Regions from separate parts of the Homo sapiens genome. Here all the other regions are linked to region 3. Evidence: fine-mapped expression QTL. A gene starts in region 3. Each other region holds a variant in brackets. All regions are shown on one strand. Distances are from middle to middle.

Evidence for each region. PIP is the estimated chance that this variant, and not a neighbour inherited with it, causes the effect.
Region 1: its variant is fine-mapped to the expression of B4GALNT3 in whole blood (INTERVAL, PIP above 0.99).
Region 2: its variant is fine-mapped to the expression of B4GALNT3 in lung (TOPMed, PIP 0.98).
Region 4: its variant is fine-mapped to the expression of B4GALNT3 in nucleus accumbens (GTEx, PIP above 0.99).
Region 5: its variant is fine-mapped to the expression of B4GALNT3 in tibial artery (GTEx, PIP above 0.99). The same link has a PIP of 0.9 or more in ovary.
Region 6: its variant is fine-mapped to the expression of B4GALNT3 in thyroid (GTEx, PIP above 0.99).
Region 7: its variant is fine-mapped to the expression of B4GALNT3 in whole blood (TOPMed, PIP above 0.99).

The regions. Positions count from the first base shown.
Region 1 is chr12:554,161-558,222 of GRCh38, reverse strand. It overlaps B4GALNT3 (beta-1,4-N-acetyl-galactosaminyltransferase 3), which reads right to left. Exons shown (of 20, transcript NM_173593.4): 15 at 1,357-1,676; 16 at 462-615; 17 at 135-207. Among named protein-coding and RNA genes, the nearest start is that of NINJ2-AS1, 75 kb to the left of the region's middle. The variant C/T (reference allele first, on the strand shown) is at 1,734.
Region 2 is chr12:504,621-508,685 of GRCh38, reverse strand. All of the region lies in intron 1 of B4GALNT3 (beta-1,4-N-acetyl-galactosaminyltransferase 3), which reads right to left. LOC124902852 (a long non-coding RNA gene) reads left to right here and starts at 516. Exons shown (of 3, transcript XR_007063150.1): 1 at 516-694; 2 at 731-838; 3 at 911-961. The variant C/T (reference allele first, on the strand shown) is at 1,638.
Region 3 is chr12:457,886-461,950 of GRCh38, reverse strand. B4GALNT3 (beta-1,4-N-acetyl-galactosaminyltransferase 3) reads right to left here and starts at 2,012. Exons shown (of 20, transcript NM_173593.4): 1 at 1,406-2,012. The coding sequence starts at 1,574. RefSeq lists an enhancer at 1,861-2,844.
Region 4 is chr12:516,635-520,699 of GRCh38, reverse strand. All of the region lies in intron 1 of B4GALNT3 (beta-1,4-N-acetyl-galactosaminyltransferase 3), which reads right to left. Among named protein-coding and RNA genes, the nearest start is that of B4GALNT3, 59 kb to the right of the region's middle. The variant G/T (reference allele first, on the strand shown) is at 1,630.
Region 5 is chr12:479,051-483,115 of GRCh38, reverse strand. The region is part of intron 1 of B4GALNT3 (beta-1,4-N-acetyl-galactosaminyltransferase 3); the gene reads right to left. Among named protein-coding and RNA genes, the nearest start is that of B4GALNT3, 21 kb to the right of the region's middle. The variant C/T (reference allele first, on the strand shown) is at 2,023.
Region 6 is chr12:494,426-498,490 of GRCh38, reverse strand. The region is part of intron 1 of B4GALNT3 (beta-1,4-N-acetyl-galactosaminyltransferase 3); the gene reads right to left. Among named protein-coding and RNA genes, the nearest start is that of B4GALNT3, 37 kb to the right of the region's middle. The variant A/G (reference allele first, on the strand shown) is at 1,770.
Region 7 is chr12:547,547-551,611 of GRCh38, reverse strand. B4GALNT3 (beta-1,4-N-acetyl-galactosaminyltransferase 3) reads right to left here. Exons shown (of 20, transcript NM_173593.4): 8 at 3,510-3,588; 9 at 3,315-3,381; 10 at 1,700-1,843; 11 at 581-690. Among named protein-coding and RNA genes, the nearest start is that of NINJ2-AS1, 81 kb to the left of the region's middle. The variant T/C (reference allele first, on the strand shown) is at 1,907.

The DNA.
Region 1 (4,062 bases), 96 kb before region 3:
CACAGCAGAGAGGACCTCCTGTGTCCTCATTCCCGTCCTCCCTGAGGGGCTCACCACCTCATTTACCCCAAATGTCTCTCTACCTCTTAACCAGCCTTGAATTCCATCTCGCAGGCCCCATCCAGGCCCTTTACCTTCACGAGGTCTATGCCAGCCTGAAGTCCAGCTGAGCGTTCAAAGTTTCCACTTAGCTTCACGTACTGGTAGCTGCAGGAAGGGGAGAGAGGGCTGCGTATCAGGACTCAGCTGCGGTGGTCCCCTGGAGGAAGTTGGCAGGCATAGAAGAGAGATGATGTGTGCTCCTGGGATGGGATTATGGGCAGGTGAGCCCTCTGGGAAAAGTTGGAGACTAGGAATCAGGAAGGCTGGGCAGGACTCCTGGCTCTACCCTGGACCCAGCAGCCCTAGGACTTTAGGATGGACGTGGCCCATGCCACCCCCTGGCTGGTGGTCCCCCTCACCTCCGCAGCTTGGACCTCTTCAGTGCCATCTCAACATCCATGTCCTCACTGCTATAGTCAGTGATGACGATGTTGAAGTGTGGGTCACCGGTGACCTGGAACAGGTTTTCCATGTCTTTGATGAATTGCTGTACCCAGCGTGCCTGGTTCTTCACTACCCCAGGGGGTCAGGCAGGAGAAGGAAACACAGACAAGGCAAAGATGAGCGGATGAGCGCCTCCACCCCCAGCTCCCAGGTGAGTCAGGAGTGCCCATCGGACCTCGGCTGAGGGGACAGTGCAACTCTGCAAAACCATTAGCAGTGCAGCACAGAGACATGAGGCAGAGGGAGTGCTCACCAGTTAAGGGGGCCTCTGCATCCTGCTCCCCACGTTCCCTCCTCCCAGGCAGGGGACCCACGAGAAGGCCTTGGCTGGGGCTCATTGTCAGTAGCCCTGCCACGCTCTACTAGTGAAACCCTGTTATCTGTCCCTCTTAGTATCGTCGTCCTATCCCCATCATCCTACCTCTGTTGTTACACTTCTGCCTGTTGTGTGTTCCTCCTTCTCATATAAAACCCTGCTCATCACTTCATTAAGTACGCTGCCCGTCTTACTTCCCCAGACCAATGATCATCCCCAGTGTTAGCAACCCCAGTTATCACACCCAATCCTGAAACCTAGTACGAAAGAAAGAGCACTGGCCTATGAGGCAGTGTTTGTTTTTAGCGGCAACATTTACTAGCCACATAACCTTAAACCAGTGACTTTCCTTTTGTGAGCCTCAGTTTCCTCAACTATAAGGTGGTCTTTCTCAGAAGTGCTTATGGGATCAAATCAGTGCAAGCAGATGTGGGTGCTCCTGACAGTGTGAGGACCCCGCCCCTGAGAATGCCGAGGCTCAGCTTGAGGCTCACCAGGCACGACGAAGTGGACCACGGCTCGGTGACTCCAGGAGAAACCCTGAGGCCAGCACAGCTTGGGCTCTTGGGCCCGGGTATTCAGGACCTGTCTCCTACGGTTGTGTGGGTCCCAGACCAGGCCTTGCAGGTTCCGGGCCTCGACCTCCTCCCCACCAGCTGGATCGATGCCCTGCCAGCCTCGTGCAGACACATACTCCGAGAGCCGCACCACGCGCTGGCCTTGTTCCAACAGTTCAAGCTCCAGGAGGTAGCGACCCCCACGTAGCTGGTCCTGACGCTTTTCCACGTTCACAATGCGCTGTAGCTGGTACCTCCTATGGCAGAAAGTGTGGGGAGGCTGAGTGGTTCCTTTCCACACTGGGAGGGTAGCA[C/T]GGTGTGTGAGAAGCCTGCAAAGCTAGTTGTTGGGAGACCCTGGTTTTTGTCCTAGCTTTGCCACTGGCTGGCTATAGGGCCTCAGGCAAGATTCGCAATCTCTCTAGGGTTCGCTGCCTCCCTCTTTGAAAATGTACCTGTTGAGCTGTGATGATCCTGAAGGTCTTTTACAGCTCCAAGATTCTAAGTACATGAGCTGAATAAGAGGGGTCACACTGAAGAGGTTCCCTGAGAAACTGACCCTCAATAAAAACGGTCGAATCAACATTCCATAAGACAAAATGAGTTATAAGACAGATGTCAATTGGTTGGCTCAAAATCATTAGTCACTAGAGAAATAAAAATCAAAACCACAGTGTGATACCATTTCACACTCACCAGGATGGCTATTTAAAACAAAACACAATGCCAGGTGCAGTGGCTCACACCTGTAATCCCAGCATTTTGGGAGGCCAAGGCAGGTGGATCACAAGGTCAGGAGATCAAGACCAGCCTGGCTAATATGGTGAAACCCTGTCTCTACTAAAAATATAAAAAATTAGCCAGGTGTGGTGGTGGGCACCTGTAGTTCCAGCTACTCAGGAGGCTGAGGCAGGAGAATGGCGTGAACCCGGGAGGCGGAGCTTGCATGAGTCGAGATCGCGCCACTGCACTCCAGCCTGGGCGACAGAGCGAGACTCCGTCTCAAAAAAAAAAATAAATAAAAATAAAAATAAATAAAACACAATGAAATGAAAAGTAACAAGTGTTGATAAGGATGTAGAAAAATTGGAATCTTCATACCCTGCTGATGGGAATGTGAAATGATGCAGTTGATTTAAAAAGCAGAGTGGCAGCTCCTCAACATGCTAAACAGAGTTACCATATGACCCAGAAGTTCTACTCCTAGATATATACCCAAGACAACTGAAAGTATGTTCACATAAAAGCTTGTGCATGAATGTTCATTGCAGCATTTTATTTGTAATAGTCAAAAAGTAGAAACAACCCACATGTCCTTCAACGGATGAATGGAAAAATGTGGTATATCCACACAATAGAATATTACTCAGCAATATCGAGGAATGAAGTGTTTAATAGATTCTACAACACGAATGAAACTTGTGCTAAGTGAATATTCTGCAAAAAGCCCGATATAAAGGCCACACATTACATGGTTCCATTTGCATAAGATGTCCGGAATAGGAAAATCCACAGAGCTAGAAAGGAAAGTAGTTATTGCCAGACACTACTGGGGGTAGGAGGAGGAATGGGAAGTAACCACTAACACATACGGTTTCTTTTTTTTTTTCTTTCTTTTTCTTTTTTTTTGAGACAGAGTCTCACTCTGTCGCCCAGGCTGGAGTGCAATGGTGCGACCTCTGCTCACTACAACCTCCACCTCCCGGGTTCAAGTGATTCTCCTGCTTCAGCCTCCCAAGTAGCTGGGGATACAGGTGCATGCCATCAAGCCCTGCTAATTTTTGTATTTTTATTAGAGATGGGGTTTCACTGTGTTGGTCAAGCTGGTCTCAAACTCCTGACCTCAAGTGATCCACCTACCCCGGTCTCCCAAAGTGTTGGGATTAGAGGCGTGAGCCACTGCGTCTGGCCAGTATAATTTGTTTCAAAGATGATGAAAACGTTCTGGAATTTGACAATGGTGATGCTTGCACAACACTGTAAATATACTTTTTTTTTTTTTTTTTTTTTTTTTTTTGAGACGGAGTCTTGCTCTGTCGCCCAGGCTGGAGTGCAGTGGCGCAATCTCAGCTCACTGCAAGCTCCGCCTCCCGGGTTCACGCCATTCTCCTGCCTCAGCCTCCCGAGTAGCTGGGACTACAGGCGCCCGCCACTATGCCTGGCTAATTTTTTGTATTTTTAGTAGAGACGGGGTTTCACCGTGTTAGCCAGGATGGTCTCGATCTCCTGACCTCGTGATCCGCCCGCCTCGGCCTCCCAAAGTGCTGGGATTACAGGCGTGAGCCACCGCGCCCAGCCTGTAAATATACTTTTAAAACCACTGAAAGGTACACCTTAAAATGGTGATTTTAATGTTATATAAATTTTATCGTAAAAAATGTTGACTGGTTGAATGAATGGATGAATGAAAACACAAAGAACTCCAGTCATGCATCACGCCCTAACCCTTCCAGCCCACATGCAGGGTCTTAATTTGTATTTTTCTAGCCTCTGTTTTGCCTGTTTGTCTATTTACTAGCTCTTTCCTCGGAGGAGGGGACCTCATCTACTGAGTCCTTCCAGTCCTCAACACACGTACTGGGCCAGGCACCCAGGGATTTCAGAACCTTGCCTAATGGCGGGACAAACACCTGCCTGGTCAAGATC
Region 2 (4,065 bases), 47 kb before region 3:
GTCAGAGGGAAAAGGTAATGGGTGAAGTGTTGAACATGGGGTTTGGAATAGTGACAAATATTAAGTGAGAGGAATAAGGCCGATCGGAGGCTGTGCCCAATTCTGGGGGACATCTGCAGAGAACCAAACCTCGGGTATAATTTAAACATTAAAAAGCTGTTTTATTGCTTGAGACCATGAGTTTGAGACCAGCCTGGGCAATGTAGTAAGACCCTATCTCTATAACAAATTTTTAAAAATTAGCCAGGCATGGTGGCACACACCTGTAGTCCCAGGCACTCAAGAGCCTGAGGTGGGAAGATTGCTCAAGCCTGGGAGTTCGAAGCTGCAGTAAGCCATGATTGCATCACTGAACTCCAGCTTGGGTGGCCTGGGTGATGGAGCAAGACCCTGTCTAAAAAAAACAAAAGTAAGTTGTTTCAAAATATGCACTGGACCTTCTGAGGTAACAGAGACACCTTGAAGGATCTGGAAGCTTTCTCTTCATTAACGAATATGAATTGGATGTCCCCCTAGGGACAGGTCTGGGCTGGCAGGGCCAGCGGAAAAGACAGTAAGAGAAGACATTCTGTCTCCACTGGCTGTGGGACCTTGGGCCGAGTCATTTTTCAGATCTCTTCCAGTTACAATGGATGATCATGAGAAATTTCTTTCACAGGTTAGTATCAACGCTCTACTCAAGCACTCCTGACAGGTGTCCACCAAGCTACTACTGGATTTCCAGGGGCAGGTGTCCACCAAGCTACTACTGGATTTCCAGGGGCAGGTGTCCACCAAGCTACTACTGGATTTCCAGGGGCAGGTGTCCACCAAGGTACTACTGGATTTCCAGGGGCAGGTGTCCACCAAGCTACTACTGGATTTCCAGGGACAGACGTCCACCAAGCTACTACTGGATTTCCAGGGGCAGGAATGTTCCGCATGCCACAGTCACGGGCCCTACAGCTGGAATGCTGCTACCTAGTGCTTTTCTTTGGTAGGGCCTCCTAGAATAAGCCCTACCCTTTTGTGAGAAAGTGCTTCCACCACAGATGTAAACTCTTGTATGTAAACACAGAGCCACTCGCAGGGCGTAGGGTGTGGGGTGAGGGATGTAGGGTGGAGGGCGTGGGGTGAAGGGTCGCCACAACAGCAGTGCCCCAGGCCACGTGGCTCCTTTTCTCTGAGCTCTGTCAGGTCATTTACATCCATGTTCTCTGTTCCCACAGTGTCCAAATTCCAAGACAGTGGAAGCGTCTGTCTAATCCACCAGACAGCACCCAGGCCCAGTGACACTTCCAGACGGGGGCTCTGTGCCAAGGGCAGTGTAAAATGATGGGGTAAAGCCACTCAACAGAACACTGTGGTGAGTTAAAAGGGTGTGGAAGGCCACACACACTAACCCAGAAAGGTGTTCAAAACATATAGTTATGTGAAAAAAGGTTGCCATATATATCACAAAAGTGACACTATCAAAAAAACGCTTAAATCTGTCATGGCCAGTAGGAACTTAGGGAGACCCAATGACTACAGAGGTCTAGGAACAGAAAAGGGATATCTGAAAGGAATTCAGGATACAGTATGAACTTGAGTTAATAATAACATCCGATATTGGTTCATTAATCATGACAAATGTACCGGGGCTTAATGCAAGATGC[C/T]AATAATAGAGGAAACTGGGTGTGAGCAAAGTGAGAGCTCTCCAGACTACCTTTGCAATGTTGGGTAAATGAAAAACTATTCTAAAATTAAAAATTCATTTAAAAATGCACTTGGCCGGGCACGGTGGCTCACGCCTGTAATCCCAGCACTTCGGGAGGCCGAGGCGGGCGGATCACGAGGTCAGGAGATCGAGACCATCCTGGCTAACACGGTGAAACCCCGTCTCTACTAAAGATACAAAAAATTAGCCGGGCGTGGTGGTATGTGTCTGTAGTCCCAGCTACTCGGGAGGCTGAGGCAGGAGAATGGCGTGAACCCGGGAGGCGGAGCTTGCAGTGAGCCGAGACCGCGCCACTGCACTCCAGCCTGGGTGACAGAGTGAGACTCTGTCTCAAAAAAAATAAATAAAATAAAAAATAAATAAAAATGCACTTGTAAGTATAGGAGCCTCTATGTGTATGTGTACAGGCATCACAGAGGCATAGAAAACACTTAGAAGGCATATTGAATTTTTTATGGTGCTTACTTCTGTGAAAGCACCTTTTAATATTATATACCTTTGAATTTTAAAAAATAGAAATAAAATGTTTTTAAGTAGAAAAAAGAGATGGAAATGAAAATATAGGAAGATAACAGTTTTAAACTTCTCTGTATTTCATTGTCCCTGTGATTGAAAGAGCAGTGGGCTAGAAGTCAGGAGACCAAGGTTTTGGTCCTTGTTCTTTCACTGGCTTTGTGATCCCAGTGACCTCCTGATCCTTGGTTTTCTTAGTTATAAAATGATGATATTTAAGGACCATTGTAAGTGTTACACTCTATGATTTGATAATAAACACACACAAATGAAGAACGATTTTCCTGTTGCTAGCAGATCCATCATGGATGCCTGAAATAATAAAGCCTGCCTAATGAATTTAAAATAGTTCCTAAAAAAAAAAAATCTGAACTGCATAGAATGTTTCAGGGACATACCTATAGGCATACTGTACCTGTGCTGTATTAGAGGGTAAAAAAATGAGACAGACAAATCGGGTTACAATCTGATTTATAAGAAGAGTATCAGCTGATGCTTACCTGGCTCAGATCTATGCAAATGAAAGAAGACAAAAATAGATGGATGGAGTTGCAAATGGCAACTCTCCCACTTGTCACTGATCTAGGGCTCTTCATGGGAGAGGGTTTAAAATCCTTGGTGGGTTCCACAGAGCTTTGTCTCCAGCTCCTCAGTCTCCTCCCCCAACTCCTATCAACCCCAGAAGCAGGATAATTTGAGAGGTAGACCTATTCAGACCCCTATCTCTCTGCAGACAGCAATCCTGGGCCCCAGCAACATGAAACAAGGGTCTTCAGGACACTCTCCCCCATGACAATGAAGTGTGGCAGGGAGACAATACTTCATGCAGTGGGAACATTCTGAAAATGGACAGGAAAGCATGAGAAAGGCCAGAAAATGCAAAAGCCAAACTCAAGGATGGGGCAAATGTTCCCCCAGGCAAATCTCAGCAAGCGCCAATTCTTGATTTCAGGTTTCTCCAAAGCAATTCTCCAATCCAAGATGGATCAGGGTTCAAATGGCTGGGCAGACGGCCCTTCCTTTCCCCTCTGGGCTTAGGGAGTCCAGGGTTGGAGGCTGCAGTGGGAACAGAGGAAAGGGGGCTGCTGTAAGAGCCGCTGATGCTGCTGTCAGTTCTCTGGGCGAGGTTGGCCTGGTGGTCACTGTCCCTCTGCTCTTTCACCAGCTGTTAGTTAATTCTAGGAGGAGAGGGAAGCCCCAAGTTGTCTCAAAACAGAGCTACCAAATAACTAATTAATTCACTCATTACATAGTATAGAACATCTGTTAAAACCTCTGGTGAGGCCAGGCGTGGTGGTTCACGCCTGTACTCCCAGCACGTTGGGAGGCCAAGGCAGGCAGATCACAAGGTCAGGAGATTGAGACCATGTTGGCCAATATGGTGAAACCCTGTCTCTACTAAAAATACAGAAAACATTAGCCAGGCGTGGTGGTGTGCACCTGTAATCCCAGCTACTCGGGAGGCTGAGGCAGGAGGATCGCTTGAACCCAAGAGGCGGAGGTTGCAGTGAGCCGAGATCGCGCCACTGCACTCCATCCTGGGCAACAAGAGCGAAACTCCATCTCAAAAAAAAAAAAACCTGTGATGAATTCTTTTTAAGACTACATTTTCACACAAGGGTTTTTGTGGGGGAGGGCAGAAGGGTTAAGAGACAGAAGGGTTAAGGGAATTAAGGGCAGAAGGGTTCAGAAAGAGAAGATTTGACAACATGGTGATGATAATTAATAACAGTATGTGGGGTTTTTTTGTTTGTTTGTTTTTTTGACAGAATCTCACTCTGTTGCTCAGGCTGGAGTGCAGGGGTGCAATTTAAAGCTCACTGCAGACTCAAATTCCCGGGCTAAAAATTAGC
Region 3 (4,065 bases):
TATCCAGACTGAAAGACACCTTGGAGATCATTTGGACCAAAGGCCTCATTTTCACCTGAGAAGCTGTCGTTTTTCCCTTGATTCCCCCGCTAGTTAGTGGCAGAGCCAGTCTCCTCTAACTCACAGCCGGAATGATTTCCATCACCACAGAAAGGTTAGGCCATAAATATACATTTCCAACCTGAACCAGCTCAGCGACTGTCCCTAGTAATTCTCTCTCTTTGGCCACAAGAGAAGGCACAGCACCACACCCAACTCTGGGTAGAGAAGCTGACACGACGACAGGTCAGAGTCAGAGTATCTTCTCAGCTGCTTGCTCAGCCACTCTGTCCGAGTTTCCCCAAAGCGGGAGGAAAGTGAAGGCATGGGAGGCCACGTGCCAGAACTTTGAACCTCGGCTCCCCGGGCTTGCGTTGGGCACCTGGTAGTAACGGGAGTTTCTCCATTTCTTTTCCCAACTATTACAGGATCTTTTACGGCCCCTGTCACTGTCAGTTTTACTTTGTTAGGCCCATCCACAGTACGTTGAAAACCACCTCGCACAGCCATACCTATTGATGTAAAAAGGCAAAGAGACCACGCTCTCCTGTTTTCCTAGGAGGAAACTGAGGCACGGAAATATTAAGTGGCTTTGGCTAAGTTAAAAACAGAAGTAGGAATCTACCTGCTGCCCGGTCCACTGTGCTGTCCATCATCTCCTTAAACTGGGGAGTTTGGTAGATTTGCTCAGGGTTCAGAAAAGTGGCAGAAGGGGCGGCCCGAACAGGAGAAAGAGGGCGCAGCGAGGAGGTGGGAGATTCAAAGAGCCGAGGACGGAGGCTGGGAGAGGAGCGACGTATGGGAAGCGGGGAAGAGACGGGACTCTCCGAGGTATGGTAAAAAAGAACCCCCCTAGAAGATGCAGCAGGAGAGGAAACGGAGTGAGCCAAACAGAAGGCGGTGGGCAAAGTTTGGGCTGCGCGGACTGGAGCGCGCGCCTGGGTGTGGACGGCCGAGGGCATCCCGCACCCGAATCCCTAGCTCGCGCGTGGACCCCACGGACCTCCTCCCCGGGAACCGCAAGCCCGGAGCGGCTGGAGGGGCCCGGTCTCCGCCAGCGTCTCGGCGGGACGGGCGGGGAGCCTCTCTCCGGGTCGCTCTCCGAGGGGAGACGCGAGGAGCCCCCAGGGTGCCCCGGACCCACGTGGCCGGCGGGCAGGCCCGGGCTCGGGAATTCTGCGCTCGGCCCCGCGGCTTCCCCCGCCCGCAGCTCTCCCCGAGTACGCGCGGGGCGACGCCGGGCACCTGAGGGAGAAATGGGTGGGAAATCGGGTCTGAGGATGGGATGAGAGGCGGGTCCCCCCAACGCAGGAGCCGCCGCCGCCGCCCACCCCCGCGCCCTTCGCCTCCCCTGGGTGCTACTTACTCCGGTTCAGGGGGTTCCCGCCGACCTGGGCCGACGCCACCAGTTCCAGATACAGAGTCCAGAGCCCCACAGACACCACGGCGAGCGCCAGCAGCAGCCGGAAGCGCCTCCGCAGCAGCTTCACCGGGCGCAGGAGCAGCGGGGGCCGCGCGGCCCGGGGGCTCCCCATGGCGCTGCGCCGAGGCGGCCGCCGCCAGCGCGGGCTCCAACCCCCCGAGCCGCCGCCCCCCGGCCGGGCCCCGCGCCCAGGGCGCCCCGCGTCCCGGCCCAGCGTCTCAGGGCTGCGCCGAGGCCGTCTCTCCCGGCCGCTCTCCGGCGGGGCTCGGGCTCATGCTCCGGGCGCGAGGGGTCTCCGGGCTGCGCGGGCGCCCAGCAGGTCTCTCCGGGAGCCGAGCCCGGCTCCTCCTCCGCGCGTGTGTTCCGCGCCGGGCTCTCCTCCCCACGCCTCTCCCGTCGCAGGCTCGCTGCCGCCCTCCCTCCCTGCGCGCCCGCCCTCACTCGCTGCCCAGAAGGAGGCTTCCCCGGCGCCCGCCCGCCTGCCTCCGCCCGCGCCCCCGCCAGCCCCGGACCGGGCTCCGGGCTCTGGGCTCTCCTGCTCGCGGAACCTGGCCCGCCCCCGGCCCCGCCCCCGCCCCCGCCCCGGGCACAGGTGGGCTCCGCCCCCGAGAAGCCAGGGACGCGAAGAGGCCATTCGGCTTCCCTAGGGGAGCGAGAGGTGGGGCCAGAGAACTGGTGCCTGGTGCCTCCCCCGACTGGGAACGGGTGGGATGAGGAGGGGGCGAGTGATGATGCGGACTCTGGGTGACCGAGGGAAACCGAGTCACCACCCAGGCGCCTAACGGTGTGGTTTTAGGCAGAAGCGAAGTAGAGGCTGGTTTGGGCGACGCCCAAGGCTTTAGCCTCAGAGCCTTTCGTCGCCAACAGCAACGACCCGACTCCCTGCTTGACGAAACCAGTAGGCGTGAAATATCACGGGAGCCACTGGACGCTTAACGCAGACATAGCTTCGTTTTCCAGTTGAGATTTGAAGACCTTTCTTCCCAGCCTGAACCACATCTCCGAGAGGCGCTGGGGAAGTCGTACAGCCCCCACGGTGAACCCCAGCAAGCAGTTTTCCCCAGACTGGGCTGGAATGGCTGTTTGAAGAGAGTAGGTGTTTGAGGGTTCCGAAAAAGAATTTTAAAAAGAAAAGAAAAGTATTCACTCTTAGAGTTGAAAAGATCAGCAAGATAAGCCAGGCACAGTGGCTCACGGCTGTCGTCCCAGCACTTTGAGAGGCTGAGGCAAGAGGATCTCTTGATCTCTGGAGGTCAAGGCTGCAGTGAGCCGTGATTGCGTCAGTGCACTCCAGCCTGGGCAACACAGCAAGACCCTGTCTCAAAAAAAAAAAAATCAGTATTCCAGTCCTCTGCCTTCAGGCAGGTAAAGCATTATTATCTGATTTAAATTAGATAAAGTATCAAGGGGCAGAATAACTGCCCCAGGTCACTCAGCAAGTTATACTGCAGTTTTCTTTTCCATTATCTCTTCTGGGAAAAATGGTCAGGAGACTATGGGAAAAGTGAAGGATCAAAGTGTTCCTGGACATTTTAAAATCAAATGAATATCACACAAGTACTGTTCCAAGACAGAGGTTCTCACAGAATTGAGAACTATGTTTCCCTTCTCTCTGTTCTCACCTCAGTTGGATATTCAATAGTTTCTACAGGACTTTTCCTAATTAGCCTCCCCAACTCCAAGCTTCCCATCGCATCCTGTCCACTACCACCAGATGGTCTTCATAAAAAGCCAGGCATGGTGACACACACCTGTAGTCCTAACTTACTCGGGAGGCTGAGGTGGGAGGAGTGTAAGGTTGTAGTGAGCCACAATCATGCCACTGCACTCCAGCCTGGGTGACAGAGCAAGACCTTGTCTCAAAAAAAAAAAAAAAAAAAAAAAAATCCCGTATGTAGTCACACACCTGCTCAAAAATATTTAATGGCTTCCAATGCTTATTGATTAAGATACACACTGTAAATCCAGAATTCAGGGCCTTCCAGAACCTTTTCCAACTTTATGTGACCACATGAAACCTGCTCCAGCTAAAACGAGTTTATTCACTACCCTCCAACACATTTTCTTTTCTAGTTGGTCAACTTGTACCCTTTATCCAAGGTCCATTTCAGATTCTATAAAGCTTTCTTGGACCAGCCAAGTCCTAAGCAACTCCTTCCTTTCTGGAGCTTTAGTAGAACTTGCCATCTGTCTCACCATCTGATATGTTGGAACTTACTTGGAGTGTGTGAGTCTTGTTTTCCCAACCTCACTGTAAGGCTTCAAAAATGGGAGCTGCATTTCCAGTGGGTGGTACAATGTCCACTTAGCACTTAGGAAGGTTTGAGGATGGGGGTAGCACTTTGAGCAAACATCTTCCAGAACTTTCACTGCAGTTCTTTAGCAAAAAGGGTGAATCCAAAGGACAATTCTCTAATTGTAGCCCCTGGGAAAGGTCTCTGTGAAGTTCCAAAGCCACAGATTCCTGTACTTCTCATGTTCTTCTTTCTTTCCACAAGTCCAAGATAGGAGCAGCCAGTGTGTGCACGGCCTGTGCAAGCTCGGCTGAGTCAAGTGGGAAGTGACCGGGCCCTGTAAATAGAGTCCCTCTCTTACTAAGGGCA
Region 4 (4,065 bases), 59 kb before region 3:
CCTGCCTCAGGAAAATTGTCAAAATACCTACTTTAGTTCAGATACTATTAGTCACAATCCCATAAGATAATTTCTACTGATCTACTCTTACCTTTCAGCAATGCAATGAGACATCGGCCGTTATGATGGCCAATTAAACTACTGAGCAGGATTTTTACATCCCATACAGCTCTATGTCTACAGGGAAAAGTATGATAATAGAAAAGTGAGGACCTTACTAAATCAACTGGTTATTTGATGTGTTAATAACCATATTTTCTGAACTCAAAATCAGGATATGTGGTCTGGCTATGGCAATAGAATGTCTGAAATAGTTCATCTCTCCTGGAAAACCAGGCCAGTTACATTGTTTGACACTGTTATCAGTTTCAAAGATCTCTATAGTCCTCAGCCTCACACATTTGCTAAAATCACGGGTCAAAGGACCAGAGGGAACTGCTCTATACAACTCTATCTAACCCATGTATAGCTGGGTCAACAGAGATGTTGCTAAGACGCATGGATAGCTTTAGAGGATAAAAGTTTACTCCAAAACCCTCTATCCCATGTCCTGTCTTGCCCCTAACCCCCAGCAATTTCTCCCACCACTCCCTTTTCCCTGAGCCAGCGCGTCGATCCAGGTCTAACTCCATGCTGGAGGGACATGACAGCTGGCCCGAACCATAAACAGTGAAGTATGAAGTGGAGACAGCAATAGAACCAATGCTAGGTCAAATATATGTTGAAATTCCCCTACACAGAGGACATAACAAGAGGGTAGAAAGCTGAGAATATGAAAGGGACTAACCCGGCCAATGAGAGAGTACTTTCCATGGAAACAACCCAAGGGTTATGGCGAGCGCTGTTGAGGGCTGAGTGAGGAGCTCACCTCTACTCACCTTTTGCTGATGAGACTGCAGTTGCTAAGTTGCTAAGAAACAGCAGTCGCTCAACCTAAATTTGTGTCCCTGATTCGGCTGAAAGAGCCTCAGTGAACCAACACATCAACAAGGTCTGGTGGGAATCAAAGAGAAAATCAAGGATATCTCAGAAGATGAGCTGATAAAAACTGCTTGGGATGGGATGGATGACTCTGATCCTTACCGGAAAAAAAAAAAAAAAAGCAGAAAGGAAAAGAGAGACGCTTTGGGGAAGGAGCCAATACTAGGAGAAAGCTCCAGGATGAAAGGGGAGGGAGCCTTATTGCCACTGAGCCGCGTTCTGCCAGCGGTGAACATTTGAACCCTTCAGATCTGTGCGACTCTCATTTTACCTGCATGATGCTTAAATGGTTTCTGGAACATTCTCCTAGTTGGGGTATTTGTGAAGACAACTGAGGCACAGAGAAGCTGGATTGTTTTTCTTTTGGCTTCTTGAGCATAAACTTTGATATTTAATGACCTGTGATAGCTGCCGGTATCCTAGTAATACATAAAACCCTTGAGAAGCTATTAACTGTTTAGCCTTCCCAGGTCTTAGGGGAATATGTTTTCCATCTTTCAAAGAGCCTGTTGTAGGCAATTTGTAGGGTAAGATGCAAATATTCCCTTGAGTGGGCTGAGGCACTGAGCTAGGTTTCCCTGGAGTTCACCAGCATGTAAAAACAGATACAGGCTTCTCACAAAGACTGCACAGTCTGACATTTATTTT[G/T]AATTGGCTTCTTGGATCAGTTTATTAGAATTCTGATGGTTGCACGAAATGGCTTACAGTGGGAAGGAAGCTTTAAAAGAGACTTTAAAGAAGAAGCCACGTGGGCAGACAACAAGCTAGATTTTCTGAGCATCTATTATGTATATCGTCAGTCCTTGGTATACACAGGTCCCGCAGGTTTCATATCCGTGGATTCAACCAATAGCGATTGAAAATATTCAGAAAAATAAAAATAAAAAATACGATAATAGAAAATACAAGTTAAAAATACACAGCATGACAACTATTTACAATGCTATGTAACTGCAAATGCTATTGCATTGTATTAAGTATTAGAAGTAATCTACAGATGATTTAAAGTATATGGGAGGGGCTGGGCACAGTGCCTCATGCCTGTAATTCTAGTACTCTGAGAGGCTGAGGTGGGAGGATAGCTTAGAGCCCAGGAGTTGGAGACCAGGCTGAGCAACACAACAGACCCCATCTTTACAACAACAACAATTAGCCGGGCATGGTGGCACACGCCTGTGGTCCTAGAGGCTGAGGAGGGAGGACTGCTTGAGTCCCTGAGTTGGAGTCTGCAGTGAGCTATGATCACCACTGCACTCCAGCCTGGGGAACAGAGTGAGACCCAGAGTCTTAAAAAAATCATATGGAAGGATGTATGTAGGTTATATGCAAATACTGCACCATATTTTATATAAGGGACCTGAGTATCCTCGGATTTTGGTATCCATGGGGAATTCTGGAATCAATCCGTCGTGGATACCAAGAGACAACTGCGCATAGCTGCCTTGTTTGGCTCTGAGTGGATGATTGAAGATGGGTAAGAACCACTTTCAGAGCAGAAAGATCTGGAACTGAATTCCCACCCTGCCACTTTTTAGCTTGTGACCTTTGGCAAGTTCCTTAATATCTTAAAGCCCAGTTGTTTCACCCCTCTACCCTCATAATTCAGCTGGAAAGATGAATTAGGTAAATGAATGAATTAATTTCCAATGCACAACAGCCCTGTAAGGTACTATTCTCCCCATTTTCCTAACGATAAAACTGAGGTTTAAAGAGTTTACATGATTTGCCCCAGATCTTAAAAGTAGCTAAACTGGGATTCAAACTAATTCTGTTTGGTTTCAAAGACCTCACTCTTCCCACTACTGCCTGGTTAATTCTCATTCCAATCCTGTGAAGCCAGTATTGTGGAGCCCCACTGGTGAGGAATTGATAAGTCATGGCTGATGGTCCTGCCACGGCCGCTAATGCATGGCTGGACTGGAGTTCACACCCAGCCTGCCTCTCCTATGCTTTCCCCATGGCACAGCCCTGCTTCATGCAGGAAGGATGGGTTTGATAACATGACAAGTACATAACTGAGCACTGAGCAAAGTCTCCTGGAATCCAGAGAGGAGGATCCTGGTGGTCAGGGAAGACATCATGGGGAAGTAGGTCATGAATAGGCATTTTGGGGAAGGTGGAATTGCTGGGTCTGGGAATGTAAATAAATCACTGAAATAAAATAAAACGGAAATAACATCACTGTCCCTAAAGAGACCTAGATTTTACAGGGCCACCTCCAACCCCCTCGCCTCCCACAAGACACCTGTCTTGGGTCCCTGACTGGAACCCAGAAGCTTTGTTTCTAAAATACAAGTAACATATGTTTACCTCCCTCCCCCTAAATCACAGAGTACAGAAGTGTGTCAAGCAGAAGGTTATGATTCCCCTGTAATCCCTGATCTTCTCCCATGGGCTACTCCTTATCCTTTTGCTAAATGCTCCTCATTTTTCCTTTAACCTTTAAACACTGGATTGCTTACCTTAGGGTCAGTCCCCGATATTTGTCTTTGCCATCAACACTGCTGCCTTGCTGATCTCAGCAGGTTTTTTGGGACACCATCTGTACATTGATGACTTCCCTAGCCTTAGCCTGAACTCCCCGCTTATACAGTGAATTTTCTTACTCACTCTCTCACTTGGATACCAAAGGCATCTGAAACTTAACCTAACTCTTGATTTTTCCTCCCAAACCTGCACCTCTCCATCCTGTAAATGACAACTCCAGCCTTCCAACCACCCAGGTCAAAAATCTTCAAACTACTTGATTCCTCTCCCCATATCCAATCCCTCATTGATTCCTCTCCCCATATCCAATCCCTCAGCAAGTCTCATCAGCCATACTTTCAAAAGCCATCCAAAATCTGATGACTTCTCCCTCCTCCGTCTCCACCACTCCAGTCCTAGACATCATCGCTCTTCCAGTCCCCTTGTATCCACCCCTGCACCTATGGTCTAGTAGCCAGAGGAACTCCACCAAAATGTAAGTCAGGCCATGCCAGTCCTTGCTTGGAACCTTCCAGTGACTTCCCAAATCACTCAAATACAATCCAAGATCCTTCTGATGGCCAATGAGTAACGTTTATTGGGGAAAGACCCAGTTTA
Region 5 (4,065 bases), 21 kb before region 3:
CAACACGGTAAGACCCTGTCTCTCCAAAGGGAAAAAAAAAATTAGCTGGATGAGGTGACATCCACCTGTAGTGCCAGCTACTCAGGAGGCTGAAGTGGAAGAATCACTTGAACCCAGGGGGTTAAGGCTGCAGTGAGCCATGATCATGCCACTGCACTCCAGCCTGGGTGACAGAGTGAGATCCTGTCTCCAGAAAAAAAGAGAGAAAAGAAGAATAACACCTGTGTACACTTTCTTTCCTTCTGAAATGGGGTCTCACTATGTTGCCCAGGCTGGAATGTGGTTGCAATTCACAGGCTCTATCATACATCACTTCAGCCTCAAACCCCTGGGCTCAAGTGAACCTCTCACCTTAGCCTCCTGAGTAGCCGGAACTATAGGTGTGTGCCACGGTGCCTGGCTGCATATGCTTAAGAAACAGACACGTTTTGAAGCCCTCTGTGCCTCTCTCCAATCACATCCCCATCTCTCTCACCGGAAATAACGACCTTCCTGAATGGTTTCCTTGGTTTTCTCTTTACCAAATACAGACGAATCCCCACAACTTTTTTCATCATTGTATCCTCCAAATATTGATCTTTATTGGAACTCAATAAATGTTGGATAAATGAAGGGATGACTGTCCTAACAGAACTTAAAACTGGGATTTTGACTTACTAGCTTTTTAACCTTGGACAAGCCTCTTTCAGCCTCAGTTTCCTCATCTGTAAAAGGAGAGCACAGATTCAATGCTCTCTGGGTTCCCTTCCAGCACAGGTCTATGATTAGCCAAGGAGATGTTTCCTGAAGCTTGGACTTGGCATACATGGACTGTGGCAAGCCACTGACGGACGATATCAGAGCTTCCCCACTGGTGTGCTGTGGCTGCTAGTAGGCTCCAAATGGTAACGTGTCCCAAAGTATCAGCCCTCAGTGCTTGGAGCAGCAGAATCTGAGGGCTGGCAACATCCAACCACAAACCTCTTTATACCCCTATGTGTGTTACAAGTATCTTTTCCTGTCATTTTCTCTGTGTACTAACAGGAAGGAGGTTGAGAAGCACTCAATTAGATTATTGGCTCGGGGTTGAGTGGGAGGCTGGATTTAGCCTATAAACCCAGAACGATTTGGGGACACCCTTTTCTTCCTGTTGCCCCTACCTGCCCCATTTCAGAGGCCCACTGACCTACCATCTAAGATGCCGTATCAATGTTTTCTGGTCTACAAAGCCACCTAGAAAGAGGAGATGGAGGACAGAAATATCTTGATGCAAGAGGGAGGAAGGAAGCACCCTCTGTGCAGAGGGACCCTCATCCAGGCTTCCCCACAGCTGAGGCTGAGGCAGGAATATGCCCCCAAGAGCAGACCTGGAGCGCTGTGTCCAGGGCTCCCTGCAGGGCGGCTGAGACTCCCCCCAGCCATCCAGCCCAGCTGCCTGGGCCCAGCCACAGCTGTTGGCAAAGAGTCTCCAGGTCTAAAATTAGCTCCGCTCTCCACCCAGGCAGCTCCACCATGCACTCTGGCAGACAGGGGCCCTGCGGTGAGGTAATGACTGGGGCCTGTCTGCCTGGCCTCAGGACAACACAGGGTTAGGAGAAGGCAGCACAGAGCAAAGTCCCACTTTCCCACCATGGCCAGCCTCAGCTGGGCACTGGAGAAACCACGAGAATCAAGAGTGACTGGATGTGGGCAGCTGGACTCCTGATTTGCTTCTGGTTTTCCTCCATGTCTGCACCCATGGTGCCTACCCCGTCATATCCTAAGGCACACCAAGGAAAGGAAAGCAACCCTTCACTGAGAGCTTGATGTGCTAGCTTTTCAACTTGCTGCCACGGCACTGTGAGGTCAGGGCCATTATTCCCATTACACAGAACGCCACGGGGATGCTCATCCCCTTAGTTGACCTAAGCCAGTGACCCTGGGAGGAAGCATCCAGAGTCCCACCCCTCTTCTTTGGAGGGGAAGTCTGCTTCCTCCAGGGGCACCTCTGGTGAAAGCTCCCTCCCTCCCTGAGGCATGGCCATGACTCACTAACTCCCACCT[C/T]GCCTTCCCTCAGCGTCTGATGGTCTTTGTGGTGGGAGCTGCCAAAATAAGCAGCCAATTCCATGGCCAATCCCTGGGCAGAAATCCCTCCCACCCCTGGGCTAAGCACACAGCAGTGTTTCTGTGTTGGCTGCCGAGCAGGCAGGGAGAGATAGAGGCAAGGCTGAGAGGGACTGGTCCAGTCCTTGGCCTGCAAGGGCAGAGGAGGAGGCTGTGACAAAGATGACCACGGTCACCAGGGCCTGGGGAAGTGCCCCCAAGTCCCTGCGCCTCTCCCGCCAAAGGCTCCCCAGAGATGTCTAAGGACCATCGTCCATGACCCATGCAATTGCACCCCTCCTCACAGCCCCCGCCTATGGAGCCCACCCTTTTATTCTCAGGTGACAGGAGGAGGGGTGAGGACAGCCGCGGTCCCGGAGATAAGGCTGGGCCTGGGTCCCACTCCCCGTCCTGCTTGAACGAGAAGGCGAGGTCACCAATAGGAACCCAGGCATCTCCCCAGGGCTCCTTATCATAGTCTTTCTCCAGCCACGGCCAACTCAGAATCCCCAGTGCTAAGGCCAATGCATTTTCTTTGGGAATAATGTCAGTCAGGGGGACCTCAGGAACCAGGCCGTCAAGCCTTCCGTAATGTCAGGGTCAGAGGGACCTCAGGAACCACACCGTCAAGCCTTCCGTGTTTACGGAAAAGGAAACTGACGTCCGGGGGCAGAGCTGACCTGCTCAAAGTCACAGAGCCAGTTCCCACAGAACCAAGACTGGACCCCACACAGCCTGAATCCCACAAGAGTATTCTTACCCTAACCATATGCTTAAGAGAAAAAGGACTTATGTTTTTTCCTTTTTAATTGGTCAGTTCTGAATAGAACTCCCCATCCTGGCCGGGCGCGGTGGCTCACGCCTGTAATCTCAGCACTTTGGGAGGCCGAGGCGGGCGGATCACGAGGTCAGGAGATCGAGACCATCCTGGCTAACGCAGTGAAACCTTGTCTCTACTAAAAATACAAAAAAATTATCCAGGGGGTGGTGGCGAGCGCCTGTAGTCCCAGCTACTCCGGAGGCTGAGGCAGGAGAATGGCGTGAACCCGGGAGGTGGAGCTTGCAGTGAGCCGAGATGGCGCCACTGCACTCCAGCCTGGGCGACAGAGCGAGACTCCATCTCAAAAAAAAAAAAAAAAGAACTCCCCATCCTGGTTGGTTTTTTTTTAATTGGTCAGTTCTGAATAGAACTCCCCATCCTGGTAACAAACTCCAGGATCCACTGCACTTACATGAGCAAAAACGAGAGAGAAATCACCCGACCACTAAAGGCCTCAGTTGGACACGGTGTTCCCCTCCAGCCTAAATACTCTATGATTCTACAACGTGGCTTCTGCCGTCCTCCTGCTGCGGCACGTCTCAGTTAACACAATTCACCAGTAACTCTCCCTGTTCCTTGGCCAAACGTGCTGGTTTCTTCCCAGGTATCATTCTTCCAGACTTTTTATCTGCACCTGACACAGTTGCTCAACTTCCCCCTTATCGAGAGTCCTTAGAAGTAAGATCCTGTCCCCCATATTTCCCTGACTTCACTTTGTTTCTCTTCTTGGCTGTTAGGTGACCAAAGGTCCCCTAAGTATATCCCCTTTTACTGCTGATGACCAGATTCAAAGTCCTACTGCCCCTACCCAGTTTGGCAGTCCAAGAACAACAGTTCAGGGAAGGGATCTGGGCAGAGTGGGGCAGTGACACCATCAAAGCCACAGCCATCACTGAACACGGTGGCACGTGCTTGTAACCCAGCTACTCTGGCGGCTGAGGTCGGATGATGGCTTGAGCCCAGGAGTTTGACACCAACCTGGGCAACATGGTGAGACCCTGCTTCATTTAAATAATAATAAAAAAAAAGCCACAGCCATGAAACAAAATACCTTCACCAAGAGTCAGGTCACTGCAGAGAGACTCTAGGCTGTCTCCTGTGGCCTGCTGAGCTTCTGAACTCTGCTACATCCCCTACCTGGAGCTGAGTCAGAAGCCTTGATTCCTTCAGGACTTAATAGGTTT
Region 6 (4,065 bases), 37 kb before region 3:
AACAGGAAGTCAACTAGAGATGGGGCCACAGATGGAGTTATTTAAATTAACCGTGGTCCAGAGGGCATCATTCTAGTGCATGGTAGAGGGTTTGGAGCATCCAAAGCCAGCACACAGTGGCCTCTCAGTGAGCTGCTTCTGAAGTGTCTGGGCTCTGGGTGACAACTGGACTTGGGCGGACATGGTGGAGAGGTAGCTGGGGAGGGATAGCATCTCATTCAAAATCACCTCTCAGCGGCAGGAAGAGCCAGTGACAAGGCTGGCTTCATGATACGCAATCAGAAACAGCATCGAATGGAAAGACAGAAAAACAATCTCTCTTCAGGGGCAACTGTGGGGCACTGCCAAGGTACTAGTAAGCCCAGGAGACAGCATGAAGAACTTCGCAACCGACAGGGCAGTGAAGGGGCGTGTGTGTATAAAACTGGAGAAGTAGAGGAAGGTTTGTTTATTGTTTAGTCACTGAATGGGAAATCAGGGGTGGGTTTGGAAGCTGTGGGTGGGGAGGCATCAGAAGAGACTGAGAAATCGAGTGTGTGTCATACCCAGGAGGAGACTTTAGGAATCCAGTGGCTGTAAACAGGCTAGGAAGTGGTTAGGGTAAAGAATCAAAACACTTTCTAGAGTGGCTGTGCTACTGAACAGGAGAGCAACAAAAACAGCCCAGGGATGCAGGGCCTGGGAATGCTGGTGCTGAAAACAAGACAAACAAAATGACTACCTCCTGACTTAGACACAAAGAGCGGGAGGTCAAGCATGAGGAAAAGTGACCACCTGGCTCGGTGCTCAACAACAATGAACAAAGCCGGTTCTCCAGAAAGTTAAACAGAGTTACCACGGGACCCAGGAATTCCGCTCCTGGGTCTATACCCAAAAGAAATGAAAACAGATATTCAAACAAATATTTGTACACCAGTGTTTATAGCAGCATTATTCACAATTGCCAAAGGTGAAAGCAACCCAAATGTCCATTGACAGATGAATGGGTGAACAAAACGTGGCATATCCATACAATGGAATATGATTCAGCCTTAAAAATAAATGAAGGGGCCAGGTGCAGTGGCTCACGCCTGTAATCCCAGCACTTTGGGAGGCCGAGGCGGGCGGTTCACCTGAGTGAGAACAGCCTGACCAACATGGAGAAACCCCGTCTCTACTAAAAATACAAAATTAACCAGGCATGGTGGCACGTGCCTGTAATCCCAGCTACTCAGGAGGCTGAGGCAGGAGAATCGCTTGAACCCGGGAGGCGGAGGTTGCAGTGAGCCGAGATCGCGGCATTGCACTCCAGCCTGGGCAACAAGAGCGAAACTCCGTCTCAAAAAAATAATTAAAAAAATAATAATAATAAATGAAAGCCAGGAGCGATGGCCCACGCCTGTAATCCCAGTACTCTCAGCGGCTGAGGTGGAAGGATCGCTTGAGGCCAGGCGTTTGAGACCAGCCTGAGAAACACAGCAAGAACCCGTCTCTACAAAAAATTGAAAGTGAAGGAAGCTGAGTGGGAGGATCCCTTGAGCCCAGGAATTGGAGGCTGCAGTGAGCCGTGATCTGTACTGCACTCCAGCCTGGGCGGCAGAGCAAGACCCTGTCTCTAAATAAATAGAATAAACGAATGAAGTACTAACATGCTACACATGGATGAATTTTGAAAACGTCATGCTAAGTGAAAGAAGCCACACACAAGACTGGGTAAATCCACAGACGCAGAAGGCAGAATAGAGGTTGCCAGGGTCTGAGGAAGGGGAAGGAGTGACTGCTTAACGCGC[A/G]TGGGCAGAGTCTCCTTTAGGGGTGACGGAAATATTTGGGAACTAGACAGAGGTGACGGTGGTACAACATTGTATATGTACTAAATGCCGCTGAATTGTACACTTTATTTTTTTATTTTTTTTGAGATGGAGTCTTGTTCTGTCACCCAGGCTGGAGTGCAGAGTGCAATATTGGCTCACTGCAACCTCCGCCTCCCAGGTTCAAGCAATTCTCCTGCCTCAGCCTGCCAGGTAGCTGGGATCACAGGTGTGTGCCACCACGCCTGGACAATTTTTGTATTTTTAGTAGATACGGGGTTTCACCATGTTGGCCAGGCTGGTCTTGAACTCCTGACCTCAAGTGATCTGCCCACCTCGGCCTCCCAAAGTGCTGGGACTACATGCATGTGCCACCGCTGAATTGTACCCTTTAAAAGTTAATGTTACATGAAATCCAGCTCAATTTTTTTTTTAAGAGTAAATGAAGACATCCAGGGAGCCCAGGGACCAAGGCTGCTGGATACCAGAAAAGAAAAGTGAGAGCTAGAGATGGACAAGGGACTACATTGCTACCATTTGTTCGCGAATTCCACAGCTCTGGATCTTTTTCTGCCATGATCCTGGACAGGGGACATGGCATGACACATATATGGGCATATTTAGGGTTCTCTGCAACTCTGAAGGAGCTAACAAATTCCAACCTTTTATGTACCCCTCAAGAAAGTGTATTGGAATACAAGGGAGGAGAATGATGTGAATCTGCTTTTATATTTATAGATGTGCACATATAAACACAAATATATACTGTCAATAAAGTTTAATACATGTAAACTTTTCAAATGTATATCATTCATGAACATTGATCTTCTTGTAATTCTTGGTAGCTGAGCACCTGCTGCACTCCTCACACTACCTGCAACACAGCAGAGCTGCAGACCCGGCTTCCATTATTTCATGGGGATACTTTTCTAAATAAAGATAAGAAAGCTACCCAAGGGCCAGACTTACCCCTGAGCCCAGCAGAGTCAGGGCTACCATTAACCCATCCAGTGTCTTTGTGCCTTCCCCTCAGGCACGCAGTTTGGCAAGTGAAGCTCATGCTAGAGTCTGGTCCGCATTCACCCCCTAAGAAGGGAGCATCTCTGCAGTGAACAACCTGCATAGCTGTACACAACAGCCCCAAGCATAGGCCTAGAAACACAGCAGGTACTTCCAAGTGCTGAAAATAGGAGGCAACCTTAGAGGTAATTTTACCTCACCTATTGCATGCCTGAGGTCTAGATGACCCTTTTGTTTCTTACGGTACGTTTGGCGGAGGGTACATTGATCAGCTGAACTAAGGTTTACAAAGAAAGTTAGGGGGACTAAGGGGAAAAAGAACGACCCAAGAATTCAGGAGGAAATGAGAAACCTCAAAGAGAGCAACTGGAAACCCCTCCCCAGGAAACTGAACCCCTAAAGCAAACCCTTTTAGGGGGCAGACCTGAGGTGACTAGGAGCATGGGTTCTGAAGTCAGATAGACCTGGTTTCAAATCCTGGCTGTTACAGTGTGACTGTGTAACTTGAGACAAGTTATTTAACCTTTCTGAGCTTCTGTTTATTTAATCTGTAAAAGAGAAGGAAGCTCTGAGATTGAAATGAGCTGCCACATACAAAGTGCATCCATTGTGCCAGGAACACAGAAAGTGGTCCACACATTCTTATTATTTAATAGTAAAATGCCGGCACTGTGCTTACGCTATGCAGAGCCAGAACAAGAACTCCAGGCCTCCTTTTTATACCCAGGTTTCCTCACTTGTAGCTAAAGGGGTAGAGGCTTTTCACATTTTCAACCTAACGAGTGAAACCTGAGACTAAATCCGGACAATGCTCTCATTAATGATTCTGTTATCAAAGAATACATAAGAATAAAGACTCCCCCCCGCACACATTAGGCCCCAGTCAGCCTTTCCAGTTTACTCCCCCCATCACTGCCTCAGGAGCCTGGTGCTCCAGTTTTTGGTGTGCATTGATTGATAGGGCTGGTGACAAGGGGACAATCTGTGGGTCTTCTCCTACACTCCTGTTCCAATGTCCCAGCGTCCAGTACTACACGGGTCTCTGAGATGGGGAAAACCATATGCTCAGGAAATTCTCCGAAGCCATACAAGTTATACCTGGGTGCTGGCCTCAACACCTTAAGCTATGGTCCCACCCAATCCTGCATGACTACTATGGGATGGTAGAAAATGGAGGAAGAGGGAGGGAGACTCCAGCGCTCATACTCCTGAACTCTTGGCTTCTAAGTTCAGTGTGAGAGCTGGTTAAGCAGAATTT
Region 7 (4,065 bases), 90 kb before region 3:
ACTTCTCAATTACACCCCAGCCATTCTCTGACCTGGTGATGCCTCCTGACCTCTTTCTTCTGCCCTCCAGCTCTTCCTTATAATCATCTCTAGATCTGGATGCACAGGAGAGTGGCCACGCTGCCTGTCTGGCTTCCGCATGGGTTCTGGGTTCTTTAAAGCTAACTTCCCCTCCATAGCTCTTTTTCCCCCAGTGCCTGGTCTCTGGGTTTAGTAAGTCCTGCTGGCTCACTAGCTGGCGGGACTGACCAGGCAGGGTAGGGTTGTGTGGCCCTTGGAGCAGGGAGCTTAAGAAGCCTCAGCCAGGCCACCTGATATCATCACGGGGCTGGGCTGAGTTGGTGTGTGTTGGGGGGCCCTGAGGCAGAGCACCCACGTGCAGGCTCTGCTGGACAGTCTATTCAGGGCGGTCCATCTGGGAGTGCAAGTTCTTCCCAGCCCAGGGACCTGTGAGGACGTCCTGTCTGCTGGGATGGGATGTTGGGAAGATGGGAAAGTCAGCCTCACCACCTCCCATCCCAGTCACAGGCAGCAATCCCTCTGCCAGCCCTGCTCTCCATGACCCAGGCCCAAGACTTACAAACCGGAGTCCCTGGTAGCGCTGCAGAGGAAGCCCATCCACCAGATAGCTGGGTTTGTAGGGACAGTCAGGCAGGACGTGGCGGAGATGCGACTTGGGGATCAGAGGCACTGAGGACAGTGGAGGAGGAGGAGTGAGGGTGAGGGTGAGCACGAAACTGGGGCTGAAGTCCTCTGCCCTGAGCAGGGCCCTTTCTGTATTCGCAAGCGGCAGCTGTGTTCTGCCGACGTCTGTGGCTGAGGCTGCCAGCTGGAGGCTGCCCCACGCACCTGGAGCAGGGCCATTTGAGGAGCACCCTGGCAGCAGAGGACTCAGCACACAGCCCCAGGTACAAGGCACCGTTTGATCTTAGAGTCACTGTGCAGGGATAGCCTCAATAAGGTCTAGAAACTTCTAAGAGGCCAGAAGGTCCCCTCCCTCGTACAGTACCGATAACTGGATTTCCTACCATGGGCTGAACATCCCCTTAGCGTCAGTTGTCATTTTTTTGAGAGGGGTGAGGAGTAAAGAAACTTTGTTGTTTTTTTTGTTTGTTTGTTTTTTTTGACAGGATCTCACTCTGTCACCCAGGCTGGAGTGCAGTGGTTCAATCACAGCTCACTGCAGCCTCAACCTCCTGGGCTCAAGCGATCCTCCCACCTCAGCATCCCAAAGTGCCAGGATGACAGGAATGAGCCACCATGCCTGGCCATCTTGGCCGTCTTTTAAAATGTAAACACTCCCAAGAGGAATCATGCATTAAGACTCTAACACTGTGGTGTCCACGTATTTCTCTCCTTGGATGACAAGAGTTGGAATGCAGTAAGAGGCGGGGACGTGTGAGATTGGGAAGGGATGTGTGGGGGACTTCCGGGTTCTAACTCTATTTCTTGTTGTGGGTGGTGGTTCCACAAACGTTCACTCTGTAATGATATGCAGAATTGTAAAATTACACGTAAATATTTTATACTTATTTACATGCTCTCTTTTCTGTATGCATGTTCTATGTTACAAGGACGATAAAAAGTTCTACGGTGATTGGGATACTTGGCAGGTCTCTCAAGCCTTCTCCACCATCAGCAGTGGACCTGGCAGTGCAGTGTCCCCAGAAAGGACGCCAAGCGCTGGCCGAGGCCTTACCTCGATAGAGGGTGTCCCGGGGGTCAGGCCGAAGCATGTCAGCGGGCGGCTGCTCATCCCTGGGAAGAGCGTTGGAGGAGTCCACGTGGCTGGCTGCTGTCTGTGGGATGTGGCCCACCTCATCCATCTGTAGGAACGTCTCATCTGGGCGCAGGGAGGAAAGAAAGCAGGAGGCTGTGTGGCCTGGAGCGCAGCAGCCCACTGCCC[T/C]TGAAGGGGAGGGAAGAGACGCAGAAGGGGCTCCTGACTCCAGCGGCGACGGTGTAGGATGTGCGCAGCCACACTCCCTCTGGCCCCCGCCACAGCGGTGGCTTCACGATTCATCTGCCTTCGGCCCCCTCTGCCAGCCCCACGGCTGACCCACACGACTGTGTTGCGTACTCGGAAAAAGACACCTCTTTCTCAAAATGTGTTACTGCGGACTGCTAGAAATGTGGCATTAAGTACGCCTAATTTATTGAACGCTTACAGAGCACTTAATAATAAGCCAGGCCCTGCTCTAAGAATATCCCAAATATGAACCCTTCTAATCTCCAAAAGCACCACATGCCTTCTGTACTACGATCATTCCCAGTTTACAGATAAGGAACTTTGGCATAGAGAATCTAAGTCATTTGCCCAACATCATACAACAGACGGGTGGCCAAGCTGAGTTTGAAGCCAGGTGATCTAGTTTCAGCATCCAGGTTAAAGCAGCCACAGAGAAGGGGGGTGGGGGGCTGGCTGCTTCTTTGCTCTCTGTCTCCCGGGTTCATGCATCTGTCTACACCTGCCACGGAGGCCTATGGATGGCATGTTTTTCAACGGGGCCTGAGGATGGGAGTCTCACTGAGGAAATGATATGAAATGGAAAATGCCATTGAAGAAAGAGGTCGCTTCCTGTGCACTGAAGGCAGGTGAACAGGTTTCCTCTGCCCTGGCCATGGCTTTGCAAGAACCGTGGTTACCTCATCTGGAAAATAGGGGATTGGACTCGCTCAGAGGGTTTTTTTGTGTTGTTTTGTTTTGCTTTTGAGGCAGCGTCTTGCTCTGTTGCCCAGGCTGGAGCACAGTGACCCAATTACAGCTCACTGTAGCTTCAGCTTCGAACTCCTGGGCTCAAGCGATCCTTCCCAGTAGCTGTGACTACAGGCATGCGCCACCACACCCAGTTAATTTTTTAATTTTTTGTAGAGATGAGGTGTCGCTATGTGGCCTGGGCTGGTCTCGAACTCCTGGGCTCAAGCAATCCTCCTACCTCGGCCTCCCAAAGTGCTGGGATTACAGGTATGAGCCACCGCACCCAGCCTCAGAGTTTTTAGATCTGGTGTGAGCTCACAGTCTCTGGACTCCCTTGAAGTTGTATTCAAAATGTTGTGTGTGGGTGGGTAGACAAGGGCATTTTTCTGAGGCAAGGGCTCAGAGAGCTTCTAGCAGGTTCTCAAAGGGGTCACTGACCCTGGGGAGTTAAGGACTCCTGGTCATAAGGTCCCACTCTTGTTCTGGACCCCTTCATACCCGTGTCCCAAGCATCTCGAGCTTCCTTCCTCCCCTCCTCCCCTCCTCCCCTGCCAAATCCCCCAGGGTAGGCTGTCCCCACCTGGCCTCCATCTCCAGGGCAGGGCCAGAGCCTACTCACTTGTGAAGAGGGACAGGGAGAGGGAGTCAATGATGGTGAACTTGGCTCCAGGGTCGTTCCGTCGCCACTGGAAGAGGAGAGAGAGGGTAGATGCAGAAGGTGGGAGGTAGCTGGATTTCCAACAGGGGTCAAGGGACAAGGGGAGATGAGTGCCAGGAACTGAGCTGGGAGAGGCGGGAGCAGCAGGAAACTCACTGCAACTTCCACGTGGTCGGTGCCCTCCTCATTCTGCTTGTGCAGCACCTCGAAGTAGTACCTGTGGGAGGCTGACAGGCTGGCGGGAGAGAGGGCAGGGAAGCAGAGCGCCATCTCCATGGGCCCTGGGGTCGCGGCTCTGTCCCACCCCCTTCCAGCACCTTACACTCCCTCATCCCTTCTCCTTGCTCTTAGAATGCCAGGAGTTAACTGCCTAGGTTCGAGCCCCCACTCTATCACTTGCTAACAGTGTGAGCTGTTTTCTCTTGGTGAGATGGGCATAATCAGAGTACCTCCTCCACAGGATGATCGGAAGAACCCAAAGAACAGTAACAGAAGCCGTTAGAGCTCAGAGACTGTGGCAGACACTGTTCTAAATGCTTTCAATATGTGACCTCATGTAATCCTTGTTCGTAGAGGAGAACACAGAGGCACAGAAGGCTTGGGTAGTCTGCCAGAGTGATGAGGGGTGGAGGTGGGATTCCGCCGGCCGACTTGCCCCAGGGACCACGCACCAGCTGCTCTGCGGAGCTGCACACGGCGTACCCACCACGGC